3 linked regions of the Homo sapiens genome follow. The protein of the gene in region 3 purifies or fractionates together with the protein of the main gene of each other region. This does not show direct contact. Each region holds a gene or a part of one and is shown on either strand. Other genes may lie near its edges.

Region 1 (3,654 bases), on a different chromosome or scaffold from region 3:
TCTGGTGGCTTCTGCTTGCCATTGAAATCTGCACAGGGAACATAAACTCACAGGACACCTGCAGGCAAGGGCACCCTGGAATCCCTGGGAACCCCGGTCACAATGGTCTGCCTGGAAGAGATGGACGAGACGGAGCGAAGGGTGACAAAGGCGATGCAGGTACTCACCTGACGGCTTCGGCTGCCTTTCAACTTCTCTCTTCATTCCTTTCATCTCATTCACTCATCATCTGTGTGATTTTCCACCTACCCACTCACACCCCATCCATCCATACATACATCAACCCAGCAACACTCACTGGAGCCTGACCCCATTCATCCATCCACCCATCTGCCCAGCAACACTCACGGGGTCTGCTCCATGCCAGACTCTGTGCCAGGTGCTGGTGGAGAGCACAGGGCAAGATCGCCATGACCCCTGCCCTCCTGGGTTCTCTCATCTCTGACACCGCAGAACATTTTCAGTAGTATACGATGTCATGGATCCTCCCATCTCAGGTGACAGGTATGATGGATTTTTGGCAACAAAAGGCTAATAGAGAGATCTGATCACGAATTATTTGGCAGCAAGCACCCAGCTGCAGTGCAGGTGAGAGCTAATACCGCATCATGCCATGAAGCAGGAGATGCGGAGTGACAGATGACACAAAAGGAGACGAGAATCTGAAACCATACAGCTGCTGCTTATGCATCTATATGACCTAGGTTGGGACCCTGTCCCAGGGTCTGGGGATCTGGGGGACAGGATTCAGCCTCTGGGAGGGAGATTTGCCAAAGCTGAGAAGTCCGAGTGGTTTCCATAACAACAACCAATAGACTTGGTTTCCGAATGGGGTACCATTCTTGAGGCCTGGTCTTGACCATAGGGTCACATATCTAAGGCATATGCAGAATGATCCATCTGGGTTAAGGGCACAGTTCAGTGGCATTACAAAAAAATATATCAAAACTTCTATGGACCTTTTTAAAGATAAGTTTGTGTTTCTAACACATCTCAGCTTATGGCATTTGGTGGCCTGATGATGTTTTGAGTGGGCTGGATGAAGCCAAGGGTCACCAGGAAGCAACATTCTTTCTAACCACCATCCTGCACATCTGCTCTGTGAGGTGTCTTCTCCTGGCTCACATCTCCAGCTCATTGACACTGTTCCAGTCCCCAGGTAGCAAACAGCCCAGTCCAAATGAATAGCAAAACCTTACCATTAATGAAATCAGGTCTTCTGCCCTCACACTGGGACCACAGTAGTGTGTGTGTGTGTGTGTGTGTGTGTGTGTATTGTATTTCTGAATATATAAGATTTTCATTTTTTGTTATAAAATTTTACACACAAAAGGAGATAAATAGGTGATAGATAAAAAATAGAGGACAAAGACAAACACTCCTATATTCAATACCAAATTTCTCTACCTCTTCCCTGTTGAATTTCTCTCCTCTTTTCTCACCAGTGTCCATTCTTTCAAGTTTTATATACTTCTTAGAAGCAAATTATGTATCTATTTTTCTACGTAGTTCATAGGTATTATATATAATATATATTACTTCTTAGAAGGATATTCATTCACATTGCTCACACTAAAAATTTACTTCATTTTTATCTTATCTTAAAGTGTATTTTTGTATATGTTTTATACCAAACATATTTTCCATATACTACCTGTGCATAATGTAGAAACATATAAATATCTACTGATTGGGGTCTGTGTTCATGCTTTGTGAGTTGTGGTTGCGTGATCATGAAAGCTCAGAGGCCACCGCTCTAGAGAATGGGAGAAACGAGAGCCAAGCAGGGAAACAAAAAGAGGGAAGGAGAGGAAGACACAGGGGAGCAGCCAGTGGAGGGGAGGGGAGGGGAGGGGAGCGCAGGGAGGGGCAAATGTAGGGATAAGCCCCCTCCATTCAGAGGTCCCACGCTGACCAAGGCCCCACTCAGGAGCGCTGGTGTCCCAGGAGAACAGACATCGTGACAGAAATAAGTCTGCCTGTGTCAGTCCTGTCTCAGGACCTGCAAGCCGGCCCAGCCTGCCCCTGTCGCCCCACAGCCACGTCAGTGGGTCTGAAGTATGGGAGTCTCTGCTGCTTTGTGAGAAGCCAGAGTCTGGGGTGAGCTGTGGCCCAATGAGCACTCTACTGCCATAGCCAGAGCCACCTTCAACCTGCTGACGGATAGCACGCCGACCTGGAGCTCAGGGGGGCCTGTTCTGAGCACAAGGACTTGAGTGTAGTCAGCAGAGCCCCACTCACCTGATGTTCTCTGCCAGCTTGATTGGTGGCATTTCCCCCAGTGTAAGGCACTAGAGGGATCCTTCCAGAACTCTCTCTTCTATCTTGGGATAGTGTCACGTAACCATAGTCATCTGTGTTTTCATAGGAGCCTAGTAAATCTTCCGTTCCACTCTCCTCAAGAGTAATGGAAGAGAAACAGAGTGAGGAAACCTCCTGGCACCTCCAACATTCAGACCACGTCCCAAGTCCTTGTCGCAGGAGAGGAACACAATCGTGACAGTCAGTCCCCATTGCACACACTCCCTCTTCGTCCTGTCTTGCTGTGCGCTCTAGGCACGTCCTAGAGATGGGCGCTTGGGAAGTCACTCAGTTCATTTCTTAGGTCACTTATCCCACGCAGCTCAGCACCCCAGATGCCCGCTCATGCCTGCCTCTCTCCACCTGCGCTTGTGTGGAGGACAGAGTGCCCGTCAGGGCGGGGGTCACCCCCAGACTCTCCAACACACATGGCTGATGGAGACCAATGGCCAGAAAAATCAGAAATGGAATTTCAACTCATGCCTGTTTTCTGCTTTTCCACCTAGGAGAACCAGGACGTCCTGGCAGCCCGGGGAAGGATGGGACGAGTGGAGAGAAGGGAGAACGAGGTTAGTAGTTCCTATTTATGGTGCTCTAATTCTGAGCTGTCGACTATTTAACAATATTACCATGGACAAGTCCTCCATGCTGATTATAATCTTACAATAAAGGCAACACAGTTCTTACTCTCCAGACGGGGGGATTCTGCAGGGATTGGCAGGCTTTGCAGAGGGCTGGGTAGTAAATATTCTCAACTCCGCAGGCCATACAGATCTGTCACCACTACTCAACTTCCCCTTGTAGTGAAAAGAAGCTGTAGATGCTCCATAAATAAGCATGGCTCTGTTCCAGTGACACCATATGTGTGAAGACTGAAATGGGAATTTCCCATGGTTTCCATGTATTGTGGAATATTATTTGTGACCATTTAAACATGCAAACCATGGCCGAGCACCATGGCCCACACCTGTAATCCCAACACTTTGGGAGGCCCAGGTAAGAGAATCGCTTGAACCTAGGAGTTCCAGACCACCCTGGGCAACATAGTAAGACTTTGTCTATACAAATAAAAAAAAAATTAGCTGGGCATTGTGGCACGTGCCTGTAGTCCCAGCTACCCAGGAGGCTGAGGTGGGAGGATCGCTTGAGCCTGGGAGGTTGGGGCTGCCATGAGCCATGATCTCGTCACTGCACTCCAGCCTGGGTAACAGAGTGGGTGACCCTGTCTCAAAGCAACAAAAAAACAAGCAGACAAACAAAACCCAGAAAAACAAAAAAACATGTAAACCATATTTGTTTAGCTTGCGGGAGGGAGGCTGAATTTGGCCTGTGGCTGTAGTTTGTTGAACCTTG
Region 2 (3,654 bases), on a different chromosome or scaffold from region 3:
AGAGGAGCAACTTTTGGTTCACCTGGATTGTAGTTGCTGACTTCAGGACCTTTAGAGAATGTTTAAATTCAGTGGGATATGCTTGGATGGTTCAGAGCAGCCTTACAATACATCTTAAAAATATCACACCCACAGAAATTCTATTTTGCCCACAAAATTTGCATTGATCTAGTTCCCACTCTGTGTTGCCATTCCTAGTGATCCTCCTCCCTACCTCTCCCATTATGGTAGAAAAAACTCTGTGTCCTGGCTACATCAAAATCTGTTGGGGTGGATCTTGGACTCAGCACCCAGGGATTCTGATAAGGTAAGTTTGAGAATCCATATTTTTTCAAGGTTTACAGGTGATTCTGACAAGTAACTTGGTTGCAACCCACTGATTAAGTACATTTTTTTTTACCTTCAGGTGTGTGTATGAGGTCTTTCTAAATTTAAGAAATTTCCATAACAAATGTAACCTTAGTCATTCCAGTGTTTAACGCTTCTGACTCAAGGAATTTAAAAATTGCTAACGTAAGAGATATAGAATATAATGTCATTTCTTCTATTTATCTGGGTGCAATATGTCTGCATTGACCCTTTAGAAGGGCTTCATATATTTAGATGATATAATAAATTCTCCACCTCTCCTTTTCCCTTTTCTTCTGTTATCTCTTTTTCCTTAAATGTCATTCATACATGTTGTTTTTTGACCCTTTATCTATATACGTCTGCAATGATTTTAGAGTAAAAAACTGCAAGGCGTGATTTGAATAAGGATATAAGAAATTTTACATCATTTTCTTTATATTGTGTTCACAGTCCATAGTTACATGCTTCCTTTCTTGATGTCTCAGTTCGAATGCCTAAATTTGAACTATTGATTTTCCTTCCACCCTTTCCTGATTTTCCTGTTTTTGTTTCTCCCCCTTTCTCTGCAAATGACTTGAAACCAAAAGGTCTTCTTTTCTTTCTTTGTCAGCCTACCGTATGTGTAGTATTTTGGACAGATCACTGAACTAGGAGCCAGAAGACCAGAATTCTTCTCCAGGTCTGTTATTAATTGGTTTGGTGACCTTGTAGGAGAGCCACTGTTTCCGTCCTCCATTTTCTGATGTTCATTGTTCATGGTCACAGAGCCAATTAGAGTTGAGACTAGAATTCCTTTCTTCTGGTGTCCAGTGCCTCATTCACTGTCCTCATTGCTTCCATCTCGTGTACAAATGCGCTTATGTGCACAAAAACTCTTATAACATCCTCAAGTGCTTATTGTTAATGCGTACATGAGGAAGGAATCGTGTATTTTCATTTATGTGTTTATTCTAATGCCCATACCCTACCCCTGTACCTGGCATGATGCCTTGGTATCTAATAGGCACACAATAAATACTTGTTCAGTCGAACAATTATTTTTAGCCATTTTCTTATTTTGGACAACTGTGGTACTCCTAGACATTTTAAAAACAGTATTTGCAGGAGTCATGCTTACCTTACATTTGGGGAAAAACCAAATTTTTCCCTTCCCCAGATGTTTCATTTTAACTTGTAATTTTGAATTTCTTTGTGTGTGGGGTTTCTTTCTTTCTTTTTCTGATCACTTCTGCAATTTATAAAGGTCACTTTGACTTTGGAATCTCACTTCAAAGGCACTGCCATCCACCCCCTGCCTCTCACTCAAGTTTGCTTCCACTGCTTCCTGTATTACTGTATTACTAGGCCAGCAATTTCTGTTATTTTGTCCAGAATAGCCACACCTTATTGTAATTTCATCATTTTGGGGACTAGTCATTTTTGGAATACTATTTTTAAAATTAGAGTTAACTAAGTTTATATTTATTTTGATAATTTTTTTTGAGATTTTTTTCATTGAGTTGGATATTGCAAACTTGTACTGGATTGAGAGAATATGTACATTTAGTAAAGTATATTTGCTTTTTTTTTTTTTTGAACCAAGAGAGTCCCCTGAACACCCTACTGACAAAAACTAAAGATGAAATATGATGAATAAATATTTGAGAGAATCACATGGTGTTGAGTTGTCTCTGCCACATGATTTTGATCCTTGAGGGCCAGGTCTGTGCTACACACATTTCTTCTCTGTACTACAGAACTTGTCTGGCATGTGCCCCAAATTCAGAGTCAACTGAGCAGCAGGTCTTAGTCACAGCATCTATGACTCCTGCTTTCCCACCTTTAGAACATTCTATAGGAGAGGCTGATGGTGAGTTGGAGTGTGTTTCTATGTTCTTTTTTCCTTTGAAGAGATAGGATCAGTTGAAAGCTGACCCCACCCACAGACTTTTTTTGCTATCTCTTTTAATTAATTAAGGAGTGGCTGAAATTTTCCTCTTTGTTGACTTATGCATTGGCGGGAACTTTAAAATTCATCTAGTCTTTCTGTCCATCCCATGCTGGATCTGATGTTTACAACATTCTAGTCAAGAGGTACCATATTTTCTCTCTTCTTGAACATCTCTTGTGGTAGACAGCTCTCCACAGCAGTTTATTCCATCTTTGGCCAGCTCTAATTCTTAGAAAGATCTTCTTATATTCAGCTGTAATCCGTCTCCTCATGACTTGTCCTCATTGACATCTACTCAGAAATTTGTCTCAGAGTCCTGAGACCTGTGCAGGTGATAGGGACCCAAAGAGATGCTTGTCTGTAGACTTTACTGAGCTGACACCCAGCTCTCCATAAAAGGAGTCAAACCCAGTGAGGAGCATGTCTGAGGTGATTGCTCAGGTAAAGCATCTTAGCCCTACTTGTTTCATACCTCCCTGCACAGGTGGGCACTGGTGGGAGAATAACATTTATCAAGCAGTGTTTCCCTAACCTCTCTTATGATAAGAATAGCTCAGGTGTTCTCATGGAGATTCTGATTCAGTGCATCTGGAGTGTCATCTGGGAATTTGTGTGTTCAAGAAATAGCCAGGTGATTCTTACATTAGGAAAGTTTTAGAATCACTGCAGAGTGAATCTGGGAAATCAAAGTGTTTTTGTTTGTTTGTTTTTTGAGAGTATTAGAGACAGGTTGCTTTGGCTAGATCCTGTGGTCATTTTTCCCCCTTGGAAATGCCTCCTACTTGCTGGCCTCACTTAGTACAGAGAAGAAAGCTGCTATGGTATAAGGTTAGTAAAGTTGTTTTGTCTTAAAAGAAATTTGCGAAATCCAGCATTTTCAGACTTCTGTTTGTGTTGTATGACTTTGTTGTAAGCCTCCTTATTCCTCCATTAGAATGTTACCTGAGATGTTAGAATGCATAGGAGTTCCACAGCCTTTTTGGTGTCCACTAAAGAATTCTGTCCTCAGCCGTTGCAAATGGTGCTTCCTTTGAGGATTTCTGCTTCATTAGCTCATGAACACATATTTGGTGTCGGCAGTTTCCCTCAGATGTGTTAGTGTGGAGAGATATAAAGGTCACTCATTTCTGGCAGTCCTGCTTTTGGGGTTTCTGGGCTGCTGCAGCAAATGAAATAAGGAAAGGAAAATAAAGGAGGAATCTAGGGCTTCTTGAGCAGAACAAAACAATCTGCAAGAAGGGGCACAGGATTGCTCCTCTCACAAAGACACTTGATAATACTGTCCTTGATAGGAAGAAGGAAGTGGCTTCAGATCTGAAAGGATATGCTCATAGGCTTGAGACGGGACAAACTGCATCACTGGTAGTGGTAGG
Region 3 (3,654 bases):
GACAAAGTTGGATGAGAGGGGGAAGGTTGGGAAGGAATTGAGTGAGAAATCAAGACACCATTTTGATATTGTCTTCCTTATTCTAGGTTCTGGCTACTATCCGGATGAAAGCTACAATGAAGTATATGCAGAGGAGGTCCCACAGGCTCCTGCCCTGGACTACCGAGGTAATCTACCCTGCTTCTCAAGCCCAGAAAATCTCTTTTCTGGCCTCAGACCTAGGCCCTTCCCTGAAGCATCCCCATCAGGCTTGGCTCACATGTGTCAAAACTGTAGCACAGGGAATCAGGGGCTGTGATTTCTCATCATGAACTTGGTTACTGACTTACTGTGTGACCTCACCTCTCCAGCCTGAAGGTTCTCCATGTATTATTAATCATTAAGTATTGACTAGTTACTCAATGCCTAATCCTGTGCAAGGTAAGCCTGTGGGTAATACAAGGTCTCAGATAGGGTTTTGTCCCCATCATGTAGCTTATATTCTGTTGGGGGTGATGGGGGGGTATAAAGTTAGCACATGTAGGGCAAGTAAGTGTGAAGCTATGTCATAGCAGTAAATGCAATAGGGTTTAAGAAAAAGAAGTCAGGAAAAGGGTCATGAAAGATGACATTTAGGCTAAGCTTAGAATGATAGGTGGGATTTTGAGAACCAGAAAGGGGAGGGGAGAGCATTCAGCAAAGCAGATGGCTAAAAATACGGAAGTAAGAACAAACCTGGTAGAGGAGGGAGCTAAGAAGAAACCAGCCTGATTGGAGGAAATGGAATATGGAGGGAGTAGTATCAAAGAAGGTTAAATATAGGCCAAGTGCAGTGGCTCATGCTTGTAAACCCAGCATTTTGGGAGGCCGAGATAGGTGGATCACTTGAGGTCAGGAGTTCGAGACCAGCCTGGCGAATATGGTGAAACCTCATCTCCAACAAAACTACAAAAAATTAGCCAGGCATGGTGGCATGTGCCTATAATCCCAGCTACTCAGGTGGCTGAAGCAGGAGAATCACTTGAACCTGGGAGGTGGAGGTTGCAGTGAGCCGAGAGCTGAGATGGCACCACTGCTCTCCAGCCTGGGTGACAAAGCAAGGCTCTGTCTCAAAAAAAAAAAAAAAAAAAAGTTAAATATAAAGAGTGAGACCAAATTAGGAAAGACTCCATGATCTAGGGACAATACTAATGAGAAGCATGAAAATTATCTGTGATGAATGCTGCATAGTGAGTAATTCCTGCATTAAAAGGGAAGTTAGGCCAGGTGGTATCTAATATCCCTTCTATTTCTGATTCTTTGTTTCTTTGCTTTGCAAGCCATGTGGAAGAGTTTAGCTGTTGTACTAGGATCTATAGGGAGCCCATCACATGTTTTTGCACAGAGGCATGACACAGTAAATTGTCATTTTAGAACATTAACCTGATTATTCTATGCAGAAATAGGGGTTCAGTGGTTAAGTCTGAGTCAGGGAGACTCTCCAGGAACCAGCTACAGTAATGTTGGCTAGAGATGACTGATGGTGGTGGCAAAGAAATGGAGGGTACAGATGAACCCCATAAATGTTTCAAAGAAAGAGATGACAAGACTTAGTACAGACTTGATGTACCAAGAGGCTAAGAAACAAACTGATGTCTGAAAGCACTCAGTCTGTACACCTGGAAGAAATAAGACCCCTCTCAGAAAGACAATGTCAAAAAAGAAAACTGGTTTGGTAAAGATGCCCTACAGGCGGCGGAAGGATGAAGTTGTGTGAGTCATCAGCTTAGATAGATGGGTTGTCTGAGGGAGCAGAAGGCCAGGGTCAGAGCTTTAGAAGACATCTGTAGACATGAGTAGGAGAAGAGGAACCAGCAAGGGGAAAAAAAGAGAATTAGTGGTCAGTCATGTAGGAAGATATCTGGGCAGTACCTGTCATATTACAGAAGCCACAGGAGAAGAGAGTTTTAAGGAAAGGAAGGGGTAAGAGATAAATTGTGTCAAATATTGCAAAGAAATCAAATTGAGGGTAAAGGAAAGATGTTATCTGGCAAGAAGGAGGTAAATGGTGACCTTTAAGAAAAATAGTTTCAACTGAGAAATTCTCAGAGCTTTGAGCTCCTCTGAGCATCTTTGTAGCTACCTTCTACGCACGTTCTTCTCCCTGCCAAATGGTGCATACCCACTGCCTCTCTCCTCAGCACCCACTAACTCCTAAACTCTCTACAGTCTGTTTCTCGCCCACTCACAAATCTACAACCTGAAATGACATCTCTTGAAGAAAAAAGTTCTCTCCCATGAGAGAACCAATTCCCATGACCCTTTCTTGAGCTTGTCTCTCAGTCTCTCCAGCAGCAGTGAGCACCTTCCTTTCTTCTTAATCCCCCTTCCTTGGTCTCCATGGCATTTCACAATTCTGGTCAGAGCTGAAACTGGGAAAGGAGGTGGACTCTCTGGTGGTGACAATAGAGAGAATGAGACTGGGATCTGAACTTGGGTCAACCCTGACCTGTCTCCTGAGCTGGTGGACTACATCTCCAACTGCTGCTACACACTTCCATTTGGAGATATCTAAAACAAAAGTATTTCCTCTCTCCTGAAAAATGTTCTACCTACTGACCTTCCTACTTCTGATAACACTACCATCATTCTCTTAGTTACTCGGACTTCAAAATACCTCAATGTCACCTCTAATAGGTCCTGTCACCTTTAACAGCCCCCTTTTCCTCATCACTTCCTGCCAGTCAGTCACCAAGACCTGTCATTTCTTTATTAATCCATGGGATTAAAACTTTGACCTCACACATGGATAATACAGTTGCCTCTAACTGGATTATCTGACTCATGTTTCCCCCTCCCCCAAACCTACTGGCCCACAATGACCATTTTAAATCAGAATCTGGCCTTGGTCTAGCTTCCCAGACTGACAACTTCCTACCTGTTCTCCCCACATGAAATCTGTGCTTTGGTCAGGCTGTGTTCAGTACTGTGTTCCCAACTGCTTTAGCCCACACTGAGCTTTCTCTCGCCCATTTATTCTTTCATCGAATATTTATTGAATACTTATTAGGTACCTCTTCTGAAATAAATGTTTACTGTCTAGACACACTCATTTGGCCTTCATTATGCACTGCCTCTTTGGTTAACTTTTTATTACCCTCAAGAAAATAGTTCTGTATTTAACTGTATTTAGCTATATTTCTGTATTTGACTGTATTTAACTGTATTTGTGTATTTAACTGTTTTTAACTGTATTTAACTGTTTTAACTGTATTCCTGTATTTAACTGTTTTTAACTGTATTTGTGTATTTAACTGTATTTAAGGAATCATGTGTGTTACTCTCACAGAGCCATGGTAAAAAGTAGATGCTGACCACTAGCATCCTGGGAGCAGAAGCCAGATTATGGGAGACTATAGTTTGGAGAGGTGGCTAGTAAAAAGCAACAGATGCAGAAGGTACTTTCATGGAGTCTGCAGCCCTATTATTAACATTAACCTTCTTCACTGGTTCTTCTTAAATGAGCAGAAAGCCCTTTAGAGAAATACAAGCTGCATAAGGGCCTTTGGTTTGGAGGTGTAGTGTCTCATAGCTCTTTTTAGGACTTAGTCTCAGGGCATAAAATGAATTGAGTGAAGTTAGCAATGATGAGGGGGAGGGAGTGGCCAGGAAAAGTACAACCTGAGGCCCCAGCCT

What was found.
Region 1: the proteins of SRPX2 (region 3) and C1QTNF9 purify together in Homo sapiens (co-immunoprecipitation; one large-scale study listed by IntAct). This does not show direct contact.
Region 2: the proteins of SRPX2 (region 3) and NOTCH2 purify together in Homo sapiens (co-immunoprecipitation; one large-scale study listed by IntAct). This does not show direct contact.

What each region holds. Positions count from the first base shown.
Region 1 is NC_000013.11:24,316,011-24,319,664, forward strand, and holds part of C1QTNF9 (complement C1q and tumor necrosis factor-related protein 9A precursor), read left to right. Parts: coding exon 1-159; intron 160-2,807; coding exon 2,808-2,870; intron 2,871-3,654. UniProt on the Homo sapiens protein: Probable adipokine. Activates AMPK, AKT, and p44/42 MAPK signaling pathways.
Region 2 is NC_000001.11:120,063,023-120,066,676, reverse strand, and holds part of NOTCH2 (neurogenic locus notch homolog protein 2 isoform 1 preproprotein), read left to right. Parts: intron 1-3,654. UniProt on the Homo sapiens protein: Functions as a receptor for membrane-bound ligands Jagged-1 (JAG1), Jagged-2 (JAG2) and Delta-1 (DLL1) to regulate cell-fate determination.
Region 3 is NC_000023.11:100,650,699-100,654,352, forward strand, and holds part of SRPX2 (sushi repeat-containing protein SRPX2 precursor), read left to right. Parts: intron 1-86; coding exon 87-167; intron 168-3,654. UniProt on the Homo sapiens protein: Acts as a ligand for the urokinase plasminogen activator surface receptor. Plays a role in angiogenesis by inducing endothelial cell migration and the formation of vascular network (cords). Involved in cellular migration and adhesion.